2 separate regions of the Homo sapiens genome follow, and region 1 is linked to region 2. The links come from fine-mapping of genetic effects on gene expression. Tissue or cell type: whole blood. Region 2 holds a variant in brackets; the other region holds the start of a gene. All regions are shown on one strand. Distances are between the middles of the regions.

Region 1 (10,722 bases), 40 kb after region 2:
CGCTCTGTCAGCCAGGTTGGAGTGCAGTGGCGCGATCTTGGCTCACTGCATGCTCCGCCTCTCAAGGAGTACATTTTAAAGCCTATTGTTAGATTATAGCATGCTCACAGCTCACTGCAGCCTTGATCTCAGCCTCCTGAGTAACTGGGACCACAGGCATGTGCCATCATGTCCAGCTAATTTTCACATTTTTTGTAGAGACAGGGTAGGGTTTTGCCATGTGGCTCAGGCTGGTCTCAAGTGATCTGCCAGCCTCAGCCTGGGCTCAAGTGATCTGCCAGCCTCAGCCTCCTAAAGTACTAGGATTAGAGGTGTGAGCCACTGCGCCTAGCCCACAATTTTTAAAATGTATTATTTCCTTAGAAAGTTCTTCATTCTATGAATTTCCACATAACATTTGCTACAAAATAATCTCATGAACATACTGCAGTCTCATCCTGATGCATCTGAATGTGCACTTTCCAGACAGAGGGTAAATAAAGACAAAACAACAGGCTGTACATATTCTGGACAGCAGGTTCATAAACAGCTGAGGACTTTTACCCTGGCTGAGTGGATTGTCTGTCCATCTTAATTGTGTGCTGATTCCTAACTACCCATTCCATTGTTTTACTTCTGCCCCTGGGATGACCAACTGTCGTGGTTTGCTTGGGACTGAGGGGGCTTCCCAAGGCATGGGACGTTCAGTTTTAAAATCAGAAAAGTCTCAGGCAAAAACCCAGGACAAGTTTGGTCACTCTATTCAGAAGCCTTCTTGCAAAACCACCACCCTATCCTCACAGTACATCAATCCCATGCACAGTACTAAAAACACCCTCAGCGGCTTGTACACACCTCTATCATAGCCCTCACCACCCATATGACTATTTACAGAGCTGGTCTCTGGAATAAGCACACAGTTGTTGCCCAGCAAATGCTCAGATTGATGGATCGACCGATAGATTCAGCCTGAAGAGAGCGGGACTTAGGACTTGGCATATAACGAGAGCTCTATTTATCTTGATGACTGGGGACAGAGCAGGAAGTGACAGATCATGAGCTGATTTTATGCATGTATTTTGCTTCAAGATTCTTTTCAGCGATCAGTTGACTTTCTTCTGTCCTCAAGTCCCTGCTGAGCAACAGAGTCCCCAAAGGCCAAGCTCAGGTAAAAGGCAGACCCGGCTTTTCTCCAAAGTGGCTAGGTCTATGTGACTGGGGCCTTAAATATTTTCTTTTTTTTTTTTTTTTCCTTAAGATGGAATCTTGCTCTGTCACCCAGGCTGGAATGCAGTGGCCTCATCTTGGCTCACTGCAACCTCCACCTCCCAGGTTCAAGCAATTCTCCTGCCTCAGCCTCCCTAGTAGCTGGGACTACAGGCACACACCACCACACTTGGCTAGTTTTTTGTATTTTTGGTAAAGATGGGGTTTCGCCGTGTTGGCCAGGCTGGTCTCAAACTCCTGACCTCAAGTGATCCTCCCACTTCAGCCTCCCAAAGTGCTGGGATTACAGGCGTGAGCCACCGCGCCCAGCCAGGGGGTCTTAAATCTTAAAACATAAAAAGGAACTCAATTAATAAAATTTGTATATAGAAGAAACAGTATAAAATGTGCACAAGTAAAAGGCTGTGAAAGGAAATTACATGTTCATGGAAGAGATATTAGGCTTGGCTGAAGCAAAGGATGATACAATTTGAGGCAACAGAAATTTGCAGAGGCCAAAGCAAAATGTTTTGTATGCCCAAACATTGTCAGTGGAAGTCAAATCAGTGCACTCTCTTTAGTGTGCCATTTCACAATAATTATCAGCATTTAAACTGAATATCCTCCTTGACACAGCAATCCCCATCTAAGATTAGTGCTTGCGAAAGTACATCCAGATGCATGAATGAGGATATTCACTGAATCACTGTTCAAAAACCAAAATGAAAACAATAAAACAGAGAGAAACTATATGAAATGTCCATCAATAAGGATTGATTAGATAAATAAATTATGATCAATCCATTAAAGGGAGTACTGTATAAACATTATAAACAGGAAGAGAGCACTATATGAGCTGATATGGAAATATCTCCAAGACATATTAAGTGAAAAACACAAGGTACATAAGAGTTTACACAGTACCATCTTGGAAAAAAACTTCAAGTATTCGTGATTACGCCATACATGCTGGTTTTTTTTTTTTTTTTTTTGAGACAGAATCTTGCTCTGTTGCCCAGGCTAGAGTGTGCAGTGGCGCGATCTCAGCTTACTGCAACCTTCACCTCCCAGGTTCAAGCTATTCTTCTGCCTCAGCCTCCTGAGTAGCGGGGACTTACAGGCACGCACCACCACAACCAGCTAAATTTTTGTATTTTTAGTAGAGATGAGGTTTCACCATGTTGGCCAGGTTGGTCTCAAACTCCTGACCTCAAATGATCTGCCTGCCTCAGCCTCCCAAAGTGCTGAGATTACAGGCATGAGCCACTGCCCCCAGCCTTATACATGCGTATTTTATATGCACACAGATACATGTGCTTTTTATATGCCTAGAAAATATCTAGAAAGATACAGAAGGTTATTTTTCACTCTACAACTTACATACTCTAAATTTTTTACCATGATCATATTACTTTTACAATAAACAGTAATTTTACAAACTACTTTAAATAAACTTTTTTCCTATCAAAAAGTATGAGTTTTATCCTAGAGATAAAATGATCCCAAGACAGGAGTTTTAAGTTATGGAATGACTAAATAATAAATATCTATTCTATGCCAAATAGATAAATCTAAGTTAGTTACAGTGGCACTTATAGCTTCAAGATAACTCTCTTGGTAGAGTCAAATGGACCAAGTTCTGACTTCAGCTGTGCTATGCTCTTGACCACAGCAAGTTACATAAACTCTCTAGGCCCCAATTTCCATCTTTATCAAATGGATATAATAAATAGCACCCATTGTCTAGAATGAGTATACAGTACCCAGCAGAGCTTCAACACATAGCAATTAAGTAATGGTAGACAGTAGTATCTGAAGGTGTAGTAGTGATGTGCTACCCCTAAGACCCATTAAGAAGGTTCTAGATCCCTCTCCCGGTCTTCTCCTGATTTAACATTGTCAATTCCTCCAACTTTTTCTCAAAACTGGTAATGATTATGAGTTTCCTATAAACTGGGTAATTAGACCTGTTGCCTTATTATGAGGATTTAAGACGATATTTATCACCACATAACAGTCTACTGTCTTTCTCAACACAGGAGTAAGATAAGCATGGGAATGTCCTGTGATAAGCATCAAAATATAAGTAGTACGTAAGAACACAGGGGAAGAAGGCCGGGCATGGTGACTCACGCCTGTAATCCCAGCACTTTGGGAGGATCGCTTGAACCTGGAGGTGGAGGTCGCAGTGAGCCAAGATCGCACCACAGCACTCAAGCCTGGAACAGAGCATGATCATCTCAAAAAAAAATTTTTTTAAATAGCAACAGAGGGGAAGAAACGTTTTTTGCTAAATTCTTTGGACCTACACTCAACAAAGTTAGGCAATGACCTTATTCTCTGACACCTTACGCTCTCTGCTTTGCCAGAGCAAATTTTGTGGTTTATGAGTATTCCAAGGAATAAAGTTTGTCAGATGGGCCAGCTGGGCTCATCAGCCAGACAATGCAGCTGAAGATCAACAGTTAGTTTCTGAAAAAGACTTTAGCACTCACTACATAGAGTAACGGCTCCAATGGGACTAGATTAAAAGTAAAGACAAACTCTCCCTTTCATCCAGCCCTATGACACTTTTCAAGACAGACTCAGAGAAGCCATACACTAGCTTTTTTGGCCAAAATAACCAAGGTTGACCCTCTCTGTAGACCCCAGGCTGCACAGAGAATAATCTTGCTAAGTGTGTGAGAACCTGTCATCAAGCTGTCTTTTCTTCTTGAACTCTGGTGAAATCCTTACTCTTTCACTATATTCTTTATTTACAAAAGGACAGCTTGTGTTACCACTGGTGTTTCTCCTTATTGAAAGTACCCAGAACTACTCCAGCCCATCCTCTGTGTGCAACTATTTACCCCTGACAGCATGCTCTGGGAGGTTATGCAATACATAAGTCATGGCCACTTCCACTGTCTTTCACAGTATCTGTGGTCAGCAGAGGGCCAGGTTTTCTTTGAGACCCTGTTGCCCAGGCTGGAGTGGAGTGGCGCGATCTCAGTTCATTGCAGCCTTCAACTCCCAGGCTCAGGTGATCCTCCCACCTCAGCTTCCCAAGTAGCTGGGACGACAAGTGTGTGCCACATGTCCAGCTAATTTTTGTATTTTTTTGTAGAGATGAGGTTTCGCCATGTTGCCCAGGTTGGTCTCGAACTCCTGGATTCAAGCGATCCACCTGCCTTGGCCTCCCAAAGTGCTAGGAATACAGGTGTGAGCCACAACGCCCAGCCTTAGGTTTTCTTAAGGAACCAACCTAATCATAAAAAAAGGAGCAGGAGTGTTTGTGTGGAAGCCAGCCATGGATTTCAGCACTGAGGGAAGGAAGGGCCCAGACTTCTGGATTGTGGCCCCAGCCATGCCAGAAATGTGAGCATGACAGCTCCCTCCTCAAGAGCCCAGTTTTCTCATCAGATGAATAAAAGGACAGGGACTAGATCATCTGAGATTCCTGCAGGCAGTAAGCACCTGACTCCTGCTGAAGACATTCTCTCTAGCAAATCCAAAAGGAAAAGTCCTAAACAACAACCTCAAATTCACAATGACCCAAACCAGGAGTTCCTGTTTCCCTTGTTTGGGCGGTGAAAAGATAAGCCACAGAAATGACCACGCAAAGTCTCACATTCTGTACCAGGATTCTGAGCCATGGACATACACAAAATAAGAGGCATTTCCTCTCCCAGCTGCAACCCTTCCCTACCACAAGAACTAAAATCACACAGGATTCTGCAATGGGGAAGTTTCTGCTCACCCTTATCTAGGGACCTAGGCAAATCCAAAACCCGCACATTATCACTCCCAAACTTTCCTTTCATCCCTCAGACTTCAGAACTGGAGAAAGCACAGTCCTGGGGGAGTTGAATTAGCGGCTTGCACAAGACAGGACACTAAAGGCAAGAAAAAAAAACAAGTAGTAATTAACTTGATTCTGACCAAAAATAACTCGACCATTATAGGCATGTTCTTGGGGGTGGGGCAAGTCTGCCTGGTGGGAGTGACCCCAGCCGCGGGGACCTGCGGGGGGCGTGCTCTTCCCAGCACTCCGAGAGCAGGTATTCAGGGCAAAAAAGCACAATGCGACCCAAGTGCGTCACGCCACAGAGATCCCAGGGGAGGAAGAGACTTGTCCCGGCAGGTTCACCGCCCCCAGCTGACCCAAACAAGGAGAATGGGCTGACACAGACCCCTGGTTCCTGGACGCGTGGGGGCCAAACAAGACAATAGGACCATCACAAAACAAATGACAGCAGGAGGAAGATGAGCCCAGCTGTCGGGAATGGGGACAGGAGAGGAGGACAGATGGAGAACTGAAAGGAGCGCGCCGAGGAGGGGGTGTGGACTGACTCAGCCCCTGGAGAGAATGCCCCCAGATGCGCGCAGAGACCCACGTCCAGCTTCCAGACGCTGCGGCGCGGGAACAGCCCCCTCCCGCTGGCCCGCCTGCCTTCCCCGCTCCCGCGCCCCGCACCGTGTTGTAGAACTCGGCGATAGCAGGCACGATGGTGTAGTTGTCCTCGCACCAGTCCACCTCCGAGCTACCAGCCTGCAGCTGGTCCCACCAGTGCGGGGCGCCCATGGCCACTCCGGGGCATTGGAGCAGCTGCTCGCGCAGCTGAGAAGAGCCCAGAGCTGCTGCGGAGGCAAAACGCGGCGACAGCCAGCGGCGAAAGCGGCTTTATGAAGCACCGGGTAACCGCCGGATGTGCGCCTCCCAACTGGCCTCCCGCGCTCCGCCCCGCCTCGCCTCGCCTGCGGGAGGTTACTCGTTCGCAGACCCTCCCCGGCCCCTCCCCCTGGAAGCCACGCCCACCGTGGGGCGGGACCCGCGTGGAGGAGGGGTCCAGGGTGGGGCGCCTGGAGGCGGAGACCGGGCTCCAGACTCTTCCAGACTACCCAGCACCCGGCAGGTGGCCAGGGCCTCGATGGTGCTACCCACGCCTGCCCACGCCCATCTCCTGGCTCAGACTCGCAGCCTCCCCCGATTGAAGGAGCGCCAGAACTCTCCCTGGAAAAAAATTTAAAATAAAAAGAAACCCGGGAGGACCTGGACCTCTCTGGACCCAGAGTTTGCAGCGATTTTGCTGCGTCCGGCGTTGGACGCCAGTGCTTACACCAGAGAAGTGCCCTCAGTCCCTCCGAGGCCGGACGCCACTCGCTGCGGTCACTGTGGCAGGAAGACCTTCCCGGCTGCTGGAGCAGGTTGGGCCGCCCAGTCCCCGGGGGAGCACTTCTATTTAGAGTACGTTCCTGCCCTCCCTCCCCTTGGCTCCAGCGTTAAGGCTTAATCTAGCCTTCGATATGGGGACTTAGGCAAAGGGTCAAACGTCAGCCATCCCAAACTGCAGAGGATGTAGTGTGGCAGTTATGACATCTCCAAGATATCGAGGTTCAAGAGGTGATAGATAACATACACATGCCAGGTGCTGTCTGAAGAGTTTCCATGTATCACTCATTTAGTGTGCCCAGCAGAGACCCTGTGAGGGGCTTCTATTAGCAAGTGACAGAGCTGGAAATTCAATTCAGGCAAGATGTCCTCAGATCCAGTCATAACTACCTTCTTTTGCTTCTGTAACTGTTCTGCGGTTTGTAAATGAAAGCCAATCTGGTTCCCAGGATCCCTAGAGGAAAGCCACCCTCTGTGTGTATGTGGTGGCTCCCGTTCTCCTTCCTTGAAAGGTTGTAGGATTCTAGGTCAGGACAGCGGCAGAAGAGGCCCTGGGCAGCAGCCCATTGGTGACTGTCATTAGGACGTCTTGCTCGGACCCGCAGGGTATCCTAAAGGCCAGCAACTCCCCAGGGTCTGCCCTCTCTCTGGGCCTGACTGCCCAGCAGGACCCTGGGTGGTGCTTCAGTGTCCTCTGCACCAAGTGTTTGTCTGCCCACCAGTACCCACACAGCCATGTGCAAGTCCCCAGAGATCTCCATCACTGACAAAAACTGCAAGCCCCGCCGCCTCTCCTAGTCTCTAGAAAATCCAGGTTTGTCCCCCAGGGGCCAAACCACACTCCTCCTTTCATCTTTGTCCCAACCTCTATCCCTTCCTCCTGCTTTACGGGCAATTCCACTGCCCTCCAGAACCCAAGTAGAAGATACACTCTTACCTTCCCCTAGGGTTGATTTACCCAGACCTACAGGATACCCGGAGTGAGCTGGCCACCTAAGAAAGGCGGTTGAGGGCCGGGCGCGGTGGCTCATGCCTGTAATCCCAGCACTTTGGGAGGCCGAGGCAGGCGGATCACGAGGTCAGGAGATGGAGACCATCCTGGCTAACATGGTGAAACCCCGTCTCTACTTAAAAAAAGAATACAAAAAATTACCCGGGCGTCGTGGCGGGCGCCTGTAGTCCCAGCTACGCAGGAGGCTGAGGCAGGAGAATTGCGTGAACCCGGGAAGCGGAGCTTGCAGTGAGCCGAGATCGCGCCACTGCACTCCAGCCTGGGTGACAGAGCGAGATTCCATCTCAAAAACGAAGGGCGGTTGGGGTGGATGTTTCCCACAGCCACAGAAGAAAGATACATCAGTTAATTTCTGTGTCTCAAAATGCTACACCAACTGTTCAGCAATAGAATTTTCCCTGTAGTCAATATTTTACTTCTTCCAACAACAGTTTACTTGGAAATATATCCATATTCATCAAAATATAATGGTATTTTTAAAAAACCATTATTTTATATGCCAGAGATTCTCAAAGTGTGGTTCCTCCCTTTCTTTTCATTTTCATTCTCTTACCAGTGTACATTGGAACTTCCCAGAGGATACATGATGTGTGATGTCATTATCTCTCCGACAGCTAATGGAATATGTGCTTGTGATTCTTTGGTATTAAAAGTCTGTTTAAATTTCTAATGCGGTAACTATTGATGTTACCATATAAACCACAAGTTCTCTGGTGTTCTCAATATTTTTTAAGAGTGTAAAGGGGTCCTCAGACTAAAAAGATTGAAAGTTGCTGTTAAAAAGATGTTCCTGGCCGGATGCAGTGGCTCATGCCTGTAATCCCAGCACTTTGGGAGGCCAAAGCAGGCAGCTCTTCTGAGGTCTGGAGTTCGGGACCAGCCTGGTGAACTTGGCAAAACCCCGTCTCTATTAAAATACAAAAATTAGCAGGGCATGATGGTGGGCACCTCCAGCTATGCGGGAGGCTGAGGCAGAAGAATCGCTTGAACCCAGGGGGCAGAGGTTGCAGTGAGCCAAGATCGCGCCGCTGCACTCCAGCTTGGGCAACAGAGCGAGACTCCATCTCAAAAAAAAAAAAAAAAAAAAGAAATATTTCCAATTAAACTATTTGTAATACTTTTTTATCATTTAGAATTTTTAGTGAACAAGCACAGACTTAGACTTACATTGTTATCATACATCTCTTGTGCATACCTAAGAAGGAAGGTATAAGCAAAAATAAATTCATTAAAGAATTCCTGTAATTTCTTTACATTCAGAATCTCTGTTCTTCTGAGTCATTTTTCAGCTTATAGTCATTGATGTCTGTGTCATTCATATAGAAATGTCCTCTGTGTCCTTAATTACTATGTGCTAATAATGCAGCATTTCTTAAAACTATTCCACTACTGTTTTCTTGCAAACTACTGACACCTGTTTTACAAATTTTGATGCTGGGACTCTCCTGATCTTACCTGAAGGTGTCAGTGGAAGGTTTCCAGACAACAGGCAGCATGTTTCTTTTCCAGATGGTCCTTATATAATCTGTTGAGAGAAACATGGAGATTACAGTTGCCAAGTCATCCCACCAGGAATAACCACCAAGTCTGTACATATGCAGGCAGTGACACCACATCACAACCATGACCTAGCCAACCATAATCATAAAATGCCATTCTTGGTAAAATGCATCAGGATTTCAGAGATTTAACAACGCAAAACAATGTGAGTTTTAGCACCAGTGAAATATTAAATTTGCTGAATGTAATTCATCCTTCTTTCCAAGTCTTGCTAAGGGAATGATGGGAGTTTTTCATCCTCCACAGTAACTCTTATTGTCAGTGACAATTGTAGTTCAAAATCAGTCAGCCACATTGGTTCCTTCTAATTACAACTGCACAGAAACCGTACTTGAGTCACACTGTCTCTAAAATTTTGTTTTCATAGCTCTCCCCATTGTTAACATTGTTAACTTTTTTTTTTTTTTTTGAGACAGGGTAACCCTCTGTTACCCTGGTTGGTGTGCAATGGTGCAATTTCAGCTCACTGCAACCTTGACCCCCCCACCCCAGACTCAAGCGACCCTCCCACCTCAGCCTCATGAGTAGCTAGGACCACAAGGGTGCACCACAATGCCCAGCTAAATGTTGTATGTTTTGTAGAGACAAGGTTTCATCATGTTGCCCAGGCTGGTCTCAAACTCCCAGGTTCAAGTGATCCCTTGAGCCTCCCAAAGTGCTAGGATTATAGGAGTGAGCCATTGCATCCAGCCAACATTTTTAAAATAAATACAACATTGGTAATTTAACAAGAGGGCCTATCAGGAGGTTATAAATTTTAAAATTGATTTATATTAATTGCATGATGCCTTAGAAACTACTGCTAGTGGTTGAATACAAAATTCTGATGTCTACTCTAAACTAAGTTTGTTGAGGGAAGGATGCAGTGACAGCAAGGAACAGAACTACTGAGTTCCAACTATTTGGCTTACGATGCTTTTGGCCTACATGACTCAGTGATACAGATCCACAAGGGAGCAAGTTTGAAGGAACAGCCCTTGCAAGGAATTCAGAATGACAGCACCTTCTATTTTTACATAGTGTATAACAATGTTTATTTGGTATAAGTAAATATCTGATAGTAAATATCCAGTTCAACTGGTTCCACAAGTGGAAATTATCAAGTCACAAAGTCTTCCCTTGGGTAAAAAATGCAGGCACCTGTGTAAATGAAGCAAGAAGTGCCTGATCAAGGATGAAGTTTTCTGTATCTTCCTGTTTGACTAGAGTTTTTCACTGTGGTCCTGCTTGTGGCCCATTGTTAAGCCAGTGGTTAAGGCCAGCCCAGCAGCAGCAGCATCCCCTGGGAATCTTTTACGAATGTGAGTTCCAGTCCCCACCCTAGAACTATTGGATCAGAAACTCTGGATAGAGCCCAGCAACCTTTGGCTTCATAAGCCCTCAGGTGATTCTGACTCATGCTCAGGCTCATGATGAGGAAACCAGGGGCTCTGAGTCTGCCCTGGACCCCTTCAACTCAGAGGAAAACAGAAGAAGCCAGCAAGACTGTGCTTGTTTTGCTAAAATCTGAGGTCGTTTTCAGGCTCAGACTTGTAGATGAGAGTTGTAGGAAGTAGGTCCTCACTAGGGAAACACTGCTGCAGCCACTGCAGAAGGTGCTTGTGTTAGCTGGGACAGGCACCGCTCCTTTACTGACAGGCCATCAGTGGTAAATTCTGCTGTTGTCAGCAGGCCTCTATTTAGAAATGCCTCTCTTGTGTGTGTGTGTGTTTGTTTGTTTTTGTTTTCCTTTTTATGGAGACGGTGTCTTGCTATGTTGCCCAGGCTAGTCTCAAGTGAGCCTCCCACCTTGGCATCCCAAAGTGCTGGGATT
Region 2 (10,722 bases):
AGCCAGTGGGCATGCCACCCTTATGTAGGACACCTACATAAGGTATAAAACAAGGTATATATCTGAAAACACTATATTGCTCTGATTACATATTGTGGTTATAAAATAGTTTTAAATCTGGTTTAACATACAGAGAAAGATACAATTCAAACAATTAGTCCTATAAAGTAGGGGTTATTTATTTTTTTAAGTTTGCAGGGGAATTATGTCTATAAAATCCATTGAGAATCCCAATCTGGCCCAAGACTTCTCTTTGGCCAGCTGGAATAATAGCACCTAGGCAAAGCCTTGGCTATGAAAGCTTTCAGATTAATTTCAGTGTAAAAGGAGCTAGGAGAGGGGCCCTGACTGGGTGAGCTTCAGCATCCACCTGGTCCCTCAGAGATGGTTCCATGTCTGCCCCAAGGGATAAAGAGCCAGGAAGGCTCAAATCCCAGTCCTGAGGGCTCATGGAAGCATGATGAACTGGCGAGAGAAGTTTTACACACCTGACAGATCCAGTAAGTGGAATAGGTGGTCGTATTTTTACAAAGCCTTGTGTTTGATGACCATCAAGCTTTGTCCCTCAACAGAACATCTTTGATCTATAATTAATGTTTTAGGCACTCTTCACTGGACAGGCATAGAGTTCCCCAAAAATGCAGCCCATCCCCAAATGGATTCAGAGATCTCATCTCCACACACCTTAAATGTGTTCATGGAAGGACTTGATTTATAATGATGTAATCATAAAGGGAAGAAAATATTACTTTTTCTAATAATCAACAACTAAACACTGTAAAACATGAATCGCTGACTGAAATGATCACTCGGAAACATGAATGGTTTTTTATAGCCTAACTCCAGTTTCTGCTGGGTATTGATCTTGGGCAAATTCTGACCAGAACAAAATCTGATTAGCCATGCCAAGTAACCACAACCATGACCTAACTCCTAAGTGTCAGCCCTACTGAAGGGAGGGAGATTCTTGACTGCCCATCAATTAATGAAATAAACTATTCATTTTTTACAATCTGAACATATCAAAATCTGTAAAGTCACATATTTAACAGCTATTTATGATGACTCACCAAGCCAAGTGCAGAGGCACATCAAAAAGTACAATTACATTCATTACTTTTTGGAGCCCATTCATGTTAGGCTTGATTAAAAAGGTAGACTCAGTAGTCAGTCTCAGAATCCAGTGATCAGCATTCAAGCATATAGCTAACTCTAGTGTATTCCAAACCTACACTTCATGAAAAAATATACAACTGGCATTTACATGCCATTCAAGCTACAGGATAAATGTCAACTCTGAAAGACATCATTTATTTACAACTATATTGGGGGAAAAAAGAGGAGACCAAACCAAAATATTAACAAGGATTATACCTGGGCAATAGAAATATGGGTTACTTTTTTTTTTCTTTGACTTCTCTGTAGTTTCCCAATTTTCTTTAAAGAGTTTGTAGTGCTTTTACATATATGAGCGATGCCATAAACCCAACTTAAAATAAGATGGGTATATTTCTACTCTCTTGGTTTACATCCCATGCTGGCAAGCTAGAGTGATTTCTGTTCAAAAGTGAAGTTATGTTTTGTCCTCCTCAAATATACTCCATTCCACATTTCTTTCTCAGCTCATCTCTTTAAAACCAGTTTCTAGAAGCACATTCTGCTTCTCACATTAAAAAAAAAAAAAAAAAAAAAAAAAAAAAAGCCGGGCTTAAAATATATACCAAACCCCCTACCTTGGAGCATTTATACCATAAAGTAGATGAGACCAGAATCCATGCCTGATAAGGTCAATCTAAAATAAGAATGAGCTGATATTTGCCTTTAAAAAATTCTAGACTTGAAACCCAAAGGACTTAACAGCAGTTCTGTTCCATCAACCTCCTAGGTCTCAAAGAGATACATTAGAAATTCTACGAATATTTAATTCAAAGATCATTTTAAAAATATTTTTTAGGCCAGGCGTGACGGCTCATGCCTATTCCCAGCACTTTGGGAGGCCGAGGCGGGCGAATCTCTTGAGCCCAGAAGTTTGAGACCAGCCTGGGCAAAATGGTGAAACCCCATCTCTATGAAAAAATACAAAAATTAGCTGGGAGTGGAGGCACGCACCAGTACTCCCAGCTCCTGGGGAGGCTGAGGTGAGAGGATCACTTGAGCCTGGGAGACAGAGGCTACAGTGAGTCATGACTGCACCACTGCACTCCAGCCTGGGTAATAGAGCAAGACCCTGACTCAAAAACAAAACACTCTCTCTATATATATATAAAACTATAATAAACCAACATATACATTCATTCAACACCTAATTTTTCTACCTTGGAAATTACCAATTTGTTAATTTGCATTTTCACCACCTCATATATTATTAAGTAAATGCCATAAATTTAACCTTAAATAAATTTAATAACATACAATTTACTTCACACACTGGGGTTCCACAAAGATTTCTTACTACAAACAGCGTTCTGCTTCTCAACAACCTATATAATTTGATAACCACAGATGTAGCATAAAGTCATTCATTTTTAAACTCTAAATTCAGTTGCTTATTGGGGTTTTCACCTTGGATCTGGTACAAATTCTAACTAGAGTAAGAGTTCCTGGATGTGTCAAAAATCGTCACCTTCCCAACTCTTACATATGTAGGACAGTGACATGACTCCTGCCCACAGAAGAACACACCTGTCCTGCCCTCTCCCAACAATGGAATGTTACAAAGCAGGACACGCCTGAGTTAAAATGAGTATCCCTGAGGTTGATAATTCCCACCATGCACCTTGAAGATGGTTCTTGAATCTTTCATTCAGCCCGATGAAGAGAAGATTCATTGTAGCCAGTGTCACATTAGGTGAGAAAAATTCAGAAGGCAACAGATTTGCGCTGCTGCACCAGCGACCCAAACCAGCCCGTGAGTGCATAGCTACTGCCAGCACTTGAGAAAGGTGAGCCGTTGGATACTCTGGGAAACCGAGAAAGCACCTTCTACTGCAAGCGTGAAGAACATGATGCCCACAGAAAACACAACAGAAACAAGAAGTGAGACTCTTGAAGGTAATTTCCAGAATAGTACAGCATACTGGAGGCTTCAAATGAGAAAACGTTTCCAAAAACTTCATGTTTGCTCCAAATTTTGAACCAGAACCCCCACCACAATTGTGAGGAGCCCTTTGGTAAACTTACAGAGGTCAAGTCTTAAAGATGGTGGGTCTGTGGGAATGTTCATGCCATAATTCTTCTTCTCTGTAGATTTGAGGCTGCTGAGCTGGGGTGGGAGGGGGAAGAGGAAGTGATGTCAGTATTTAAAAATTGTGCTCAGTATTTAAAAATTGTGCTCATCTTCAAGAAGGGCCTAAAGTGGAGTGTAGGTTTTGGCAGAGAGGGTTTTACTCATTAGCTTCACGTTTATCTGAAGTCTCTCCATCTCTCCACAGAGGTAGTAGTAAAAGGATTCACAGATGCATGTAAAACCTGGGTTAGTTGAGAAATGCAAGTGAAAAACTAGCCTTTTTAGCCACAAGTCCTGTGTGTGTTTCATCTGTTTGGTTTTGTTTAAGGACAATTACCCCAAAGGAAAATCTCTGGCATCTTCCATCACAGAGTCAGAGGGTCTTGTCTCTCAGAGGGTCTGTCTGTCATCAGTAGAGTCCACTCCAAGGGCGCCTGGGAATGGTGGGGTCTGGAGCAGGCCAGCTTTCTCCAGGAAGAGATGCATTGTACAGGGCTGGATCCCCCAAGGGACTGCTCTGCCATGGCCATTAAGGACGCAGCCCAACAAGTCACTGCATCTGGAAGTGATGCTGAGAAAGATGCATCTAGTGTCCCTAAGCCCTCCATTTTCCATCTTTGGGAAAGGAATAGACACTTTTCCCCTTGTACAGTGGAATCCAGGTGGTCCACAGACACATTAGGGAGGAGGAGGGGACCTTTTTAAAAATTACACAAAATCCAGAAATCCTAAAGAAAAGATTAACAGATGTGACAACATGAAAGTTTAAAACCAGTATGGCACAAAAATATTAACATACTGAAAGACAAATGGGAAACTGCAGGGGGGCAGGGAATATTTGTACCATATGACAAAGTTTAAATCCCTACATACAAAGAACACTAAAGAAATTAAGAGCCCCAGCAAATAGATTTTTGAAAAGATAGCCCACACCCCAACTATTCGAACTCCCTTGGCTGTCTTCCTAGCAAAGGAAGCCCACTGCATGAGGGGCGATAAGCAGAGAAGCCAGCCACCATCTTGCCATCACGTGATCTTGACTGATGATTTCTTGTTGGCACACAGGAGGGACACATAGGGGACACCAATGAAGGCCCATTTCTCATTGGGCCAGAACTTGATGACAGGGCCTTGCTCAGGAATCTCTGAGGCAGCATCAAAGTAGGCAAAGCATACACAGCCCAGGTAGGCAGCAAGGCAGATGAGGATGTGCCTGCAGAGGGAGACAAGAGGTGAGAACCTGATGAGCATGAAGACTCCGCTGCCCTGAGTTTAGCCTGCTCCTTCTTCCGGTCTAACCCACGCACCTTGCTGACTGTAGTTGCAGCCCAGGGGCCTCTTCTAATTAGGAAAGGATGAAGATTACCAACAATCCCTGGAATAGCAGGATGATAAATCTTCAGCAATTTGGGACCCGTTTTAGAATGTTCTTAAATAGTCCTGCTGGATAATAGGAACAAATGTGCAAATAAATGCCTTTGGGCCTCAAACAAGAAGACTGAGGCCCAAGGATTTACAACAGAGATGCTAAGATGGAAGTAACTGAGCACATCTGATTAGAACCCACCTTCTCACTTTAACAACTGGTTACAGATATTTTATGTCCTTCATCAGGAATAATTTTATGTTGGTTAAACCACTTTTGCAGTTTAGTGGAAATTTTAAAAAATTTATCCTCACTGTACCTGTACAAAGTTTTAAATTTATATTAAACTTTATCGAACAATAGACCATTTAAAAGCATGTAATCCTTTTTTTTTTTTTTTTTTTTTAAATGAAGTCTCACCCTGTCATCCAGGCTGGAGTGCAATGGTGCAATCTCGGCTCACTGCAACCTCTGCCTCCTGGGTTCAAGCAATTCTCCTGCCTCAGCCTCCCAAGTAGCTGGGATTACAGGCACCCACCACCAGGCCCACCTAGCTAATTTTTGTATTTTTAGTAGAGAGGGAGGGGGTTTCACCATGTTGGCCAGGCTGGTCTTGAACTCCTGACCTCAGGTAATCCACCTGCCTCGGCCTCCCAAAGTGCTGGGATTACAGTCGTAAGCCACTGCGCCCAGCCCAAAGACAATATTTTTATAAACTTTGATGTTGGGGAGGAGGGGATCTTTTTAAAAATTACACAAAATCCAGAAATCCTATAGAAAAGATTAACAGATGTGACAATATGAAAGTTTAAAACCAGTATGGCACAAAAATATTAATATACTGAAAGACAAATGAGAAACTGCAGGGGGGCAGGGAATATTTGTACCATATGACAAAGTTTAAATCCCTACATACAAAGAACACTAAAGAAATTAATCAGGGTCAGGGTGGGAAGTAGGTGAGAATGGTATGAACCAGATTGGCCTCGTGTTGATAGTTATGGAATCTGGGTGTTGCCTATATGGGGGTTCAATGTATTATTCTCTGTACTTGTGAAAATGTTGCAAATATGCATAAGTGGCACATAGTTACGTAGCTAGTAATGACTGTCTACTATGTGCCAAGCCTAGATGCTGAATATAAACTGTTTTATTTTTTATTTTTTGGAGACGGGGTCTCACTCTGTTGCTCAGGCTAGAGTACAGTGGCACAATCTCAGCTCACTTCAATCTCC[G/A]CCTCCCAGGTTCAAACGATTCTCCTGCCTCAACCTCCCAAATAGCTGGGACTACATGCACATCCGGCTAATTTTTTGCATTTTTAGTAGAGACGGGGTTTCACCGTGTTAGCCAGGATGGTCTCGATCTCCTGACCTGGTGATCCACCTGCCTCGGCCTCCCAAAGTGCTGAGATTACGGGCGTGAGCCACCACGCCCGGCTGATATGAACTTTTAAAAATAGAAACACTCAATAGACCAGACAAAGAAAATTAAAAGGGGAAATACACATCACAAATTGACATTTGAAAAGATGCCCAACAAAAATACTAATTTTTTAAAAAGACATAATAATAAAAACAAAATATAATTTTTCTCAAACAGGTTAATGGAGATTTAAGAGTTTCCAGTATATGTGAAAGTGTGGGTAAAAAATGCTCTCTTACAGACTTCAGTAAACAGTGTTAATGGTACAGTTTCTCTGGATTTAGCAATATATAATATTAATTTAACATATGAAAATATTCAGAAACTCAAATCAATCTAGATGTTCATTATAAAGTGTTTGCAAAAGTGGAAAATTAGAAATAACCTCAAAGTCCGTTATCAGAGAGAGGTTGGTTAAATAAATTATAAAGTGTCCATATTATGAAGCATTTATTAGACACAAAAATGAAGATTATATATATGTATTGGTATGGAATGATGTCTGTATAGCATTAGATCTATGTAGTATAGATTTAAGTATTTGGTTAAAAAAAAAGTTTGGGCCAGGCTCAATGGCTCATGCCTGTAATCCCAGCACTTTGGGAGCCCAAGGCAGGTGGACCTGCTCGAGCCCAGGAGTTTCTGACTAGCCTGGGCAACATGGCAAAAATCCATCTCTACAAAAAAATTCAAAATAAATTAGCCTGGCACAGTGGCATGCACCTGTAGTCCCAGCTCCCTGCAGGGGGTGAGGTGGGAGAATCACTTTCAGTCCGGGAGGCAGAGATTGCAGTGAGCCAAGATCACCCCACTGCACTCCAGCCTGGGCAACAGAGTGAGACTTTGTCTCAAAAAAAAAAAAAAAAAAAAGTTTGCATCGTGTATAGAATGATGCTATTTTTTTTAAAAGTAGACATATATATGTGTGCGTGTGTGTGTACATATAAAATCTCAATGGATATACATCAGACTGTTAATAATTATGTTTCTTTGGGGGATAGAATTATGAGAGCCATTCTTTCTATACTTCTATGTTGTTTAAATTTGTTATAAAAAATATGTCATTTTATAACTGGAAAGAAAATATGGTTCAACTTTGAAAAACAAAGCAGAAATATACCAAATTCAGAAACACATTAAGTTTGAGTCAAAATTATTACATAGTTTAAATTTCGAATTTGACTTAAATCATGTGTGACAGGGGACTTAGATAAAAATGACCATCTTGAATGAGGTCATATTTACCTAGTGTATACATTTCTCAAAATTCACAATATACACTTAAAATCTGTACATTTTGTTATCTGGAAATTATAACCCAACAAATATATAAACTATATAAATTCACTAGTATTAGTTGAGTTGAATCTAAAAAATATCGAGCAATGGATCCTAAGACGGTAAACTCCAACTTGTGCTGTTTGAATTTTGTCTTTTACAAACACTCCTTGAAGTCCCCAAGTCTTAAATTTAGAGTAGGGTGGGTCTCATAGCAAATATATCAAAGTTCACATGAGCAAGGGAACTTAAGTGAATTCTATCAAATTGTATATTTTTAGCCTATCTCTGGATAGAAGTCAACCTTTTCCTGAATCTAGATCTAACAAAGTTTTTCCATTTCTTCACCACTAGAATTCCTCTCTGGGTTCCTCCTACCTATAGGGGATAACCTACAGCAGATTTCTCCTCCTTGTGATCTTTTGCAATCAGAAGTCCTGGAGGACAGAAAGGAAAGATCACTCTGGGTTTGAGGCTGAAGCAGTTCCTAGGAAGAAAGCCACTCCAATTTCCCCCAGCTTTCTCAGAATCGGATTCTGCATGTATTTTGTAACCCGCTTTTTTTTTTTTAACTTAGTGTATCCTGAGCATTCCAAAGTATAGACGCTCCAATGTGCTATTACTGAACTCCAAGGTTGTTTTCTACAGAAACAGGTGGGTGACATTAAACAATTCACTTTAGCTCTCTGGTCTTCTGTCCCCACTTATAGAAATAATGGAAGAGAATGTCTCTAAATGGCCAGTGCGGCCCCTCCTTGCACTTGGTCTCTCAGGCCCTAAAGGTGGGGTTCCCACTGAGGACCCTCCCAGCCCTCACATCACCTCTTTCCCCAGCTTTCCCCTACCTCTCCCCTCCCCCAACACCTAGCTAGAGCTCAGGTTACAGGTTCAGTTCTCAAGCTCCTTTAGGCTTTAATAATGGAGTTAGAGGTAAAAGACTGCAGACCTAAGCATGACAATCAGGCCTTTCGTTCCGGCTAAGCCTGCTCCCTGGAGTCAATTCAGCTTTTTACAAAGTGTGCTTTCAGTGGCTTCTGAACCATCTGACCGTCCACCTGAGGAGAGAAGCAAGCCAGCAACCCACAGGACACCTGTGCACCACTTGCAGGGTGAACAGAGCCCAACAGCAAGTGCAAACACACCTGTCCCCGGCCACCTCCCCATTAGCAGGGGCTTACCACATGCAGTGCAGGTAGGGGAAGTTGAAGGATGACAGCAGCTCGCAGAAAGCTCGGTCACTGATCCAGCAGAACAGGGCCAGGGTCCACCAGAGGCCCGAGAAGAGGCCCAGCTTAAACACACGCATGTTGTCACACCTGCACGGGGGTCCAGAGAGTCACTCATCGTCAGACCTTGTCTCCACCTCCTTGCTGGCCACCTTTCCTGTGTCTCCTTCGCTGGTTCCTCTCATGCCTACAACCCCAAGACACTGAAGTTCTTACCCAACACACAGTCACTCCACAGTCTCATGGATGTAAATACCATATGTACACAGATGGCTCACAGACACCCTTCCCACCCAGGCTTCTCTCCTGACTCCAGACTCATACACCCAACTACATTTTTGACACGAGCACCCTAATATGGATCTAAATTTAACAAGTCCATAACCTATTCTTCTCCCAATCTTTCTCCTTCTCACATAGCCCACATCTAGTCCATCAGCTCTCCCTTCAAAATATCTCAAACCTGACCTCTTTCCACCACCTCCATCTAGATCCATGCTACCGCCATCTCATCAGAGTCTCCTTCCACCCTTGCCCCTACAGCCAATTTAACAGCCTCCAGCATCTTCCTGTTTAACCAGAGGGAAAGCCAAAGTATTCACAGTGGCCACAAGGCCCCGGATGCATGATCTTCCCTTTTCCCCTTCACCTCCTCTCGTGTGTACTCTTCCCTCTCACTGCCCATACTCAAGCCACTGCAGGATTTGTGCTGTTCCACAAATATCCCAAGCATGCTCCTGCAAGACCATAGCACTCACTGTGCCCTCTTGCCTGGAATGCTCTTCCCTCACATGTAAATCTTTGCTCAAATGTCACTCAGTAAGCCTTTTCCTGATGCTATTTTTAACAATTTCAACACCTGTCTCCACCTCCCAGGTGACTCTCCCTAAGGCCTCCTTCCCTCCTTTAATTTTCTAGGTAGTGATTATAACCTCCCTGACACCCTCTGTGTTTCACTTATGTGTTTCCAGTGTGTGTTTATCCACTGACATGGAATCTGTTTACTGCTGTATCCCAGCACCTGGAAATGTGCCAGACACAGAAGGCACTCAACATGTGTTGAATGAAGGAATAACTTCTTACACACACTGGGACAAAATGGTTTTCTGAAAAAAATGCTAACAGCTCAATGAAAATTTCAATTGCCGTCTTCTTTCCTTGACAAAGACTTGCTCATAAAGTGGGTGAGTTCTACCCCTGGGGACGAACACCTGGGGGCAGCTGGTGGCTGAGCGTCCTTCTTCCCGGAGGGGACCACTCCTGGGTCAGTCAAGATCTCCTATGGGACCCAGAATACAACACGACATCTGCAATTGAGAAGAAGCTTAATTCCTCTTTGTTGAACCCACAGACAGGTGTTAAAAGCCTGACTGGCTAGTGCCCTTCCCAGATGCCTTTCACAAACATCAGCGAAAGCATCAATAAAAGTGGGACAGGTTCAGAAAGACCTGTTCAAAAACAAATCAAAATACTCTTGTAGGAAGGCTAAATACATCCCTTGAAAAGTTTTTAGAAAGAATAGAGGCCGATGACATGGGGAGACTTACATTCCCAGTTACTAAAACAAAGAGATAACAATTTCCATTTCTCGCTTTCGATTACCACTCTCTACCTTGAATGCCTCGCCTTTGGGCTGGTTCCCTCTCAAAAAGAGCTCATCTCTCACCTTGACCCACCCTCTCCTTCTCTCCAGGGCTCAGTCTCCAGGCTTCTTCCCACACACAATGCCAGATACTATAGGTCTCCCCTCAGTGCAAGCTCGTCCACAACCGTGGCCCACAGGCTGCATGCCGACCAGGATGGTTTCGAATGAGGCCCAACACAAATTTGTAAACTTTCTTAAAACATTATGAGATTTTATGCCGGGCGCGGTGGCTCAAGCCTGTAATTCCAGCACTTTGGGAGGCCGAGGCGGGCGGACCAGAGGTCAGGAGATCGAGACCATCCTGGCTAATCCGGTGAAACCTCGTCTCTACTAAAAATACAAAAAAATTAGTCGGGCGTGGTGGCGGGCGCCTGTAGTCCCAGCTACTCGGGAGGCTGAGGCAGGAGAATGGCGTGAACCCGGGAGGCGGAGCTTGCAGTGAGCCGAGATCGCGCCACTGCACTCCAGCCCAGGGGACAGAGCAAGACTCCGTCTCAAAAAAAAAAAACCATTATGAGATTTTTTTTTTTTGCGACTTTCTTTTTTTTTTTCTTTTCTT

What was found. PIP is the estimated chance that this variant, and not a neighbour inherited with it, causes the effect.
Region 1: it holds the start of ACER2, and the variant in region 2 is fine-mapped to the expression of ACER2 in whole blood (INTERVAL, PIP above 0.99).

What each region holds. Positions count from the first base shown.
Region 1 is chr9:19,404,112-19,414,833 of GRCh38, reverse strand. ACER2 (alkaline ceramidase 2) reads right to left here and starts at 5,825. Exons shown (of 6, transcript NM_001010887.3): 1 at 5,642-5,825. The coding sequence starts at 5,749. RefSeq lists enhancers at 5,580-5,729, 5,142-5,997, 5,998-6,855 and a silencer at 5,830-6,119.
Region 2 is chr9:19,444,167-19,454,888 of GRCh38, reverse strand. It overlaps ACER2 (alkaline ceramidase 2), which reads right to left. Exons shown (of 6, transcript NM_001010887.3): 5 at 8,471-8,608; 6 at 2,384-4,439. The coding sequence ends at 4,253. Among named protein-coding and RNA genes, the nearest start is that of MAP1LC3BP1, 14 kb to the left of the region's middle. RefSeq lists enhancers at 2,904-3,123, 7,946-8,692, 7,631-8,830. The variant G/A (reference allele first, on the strand shown) is at 5,828.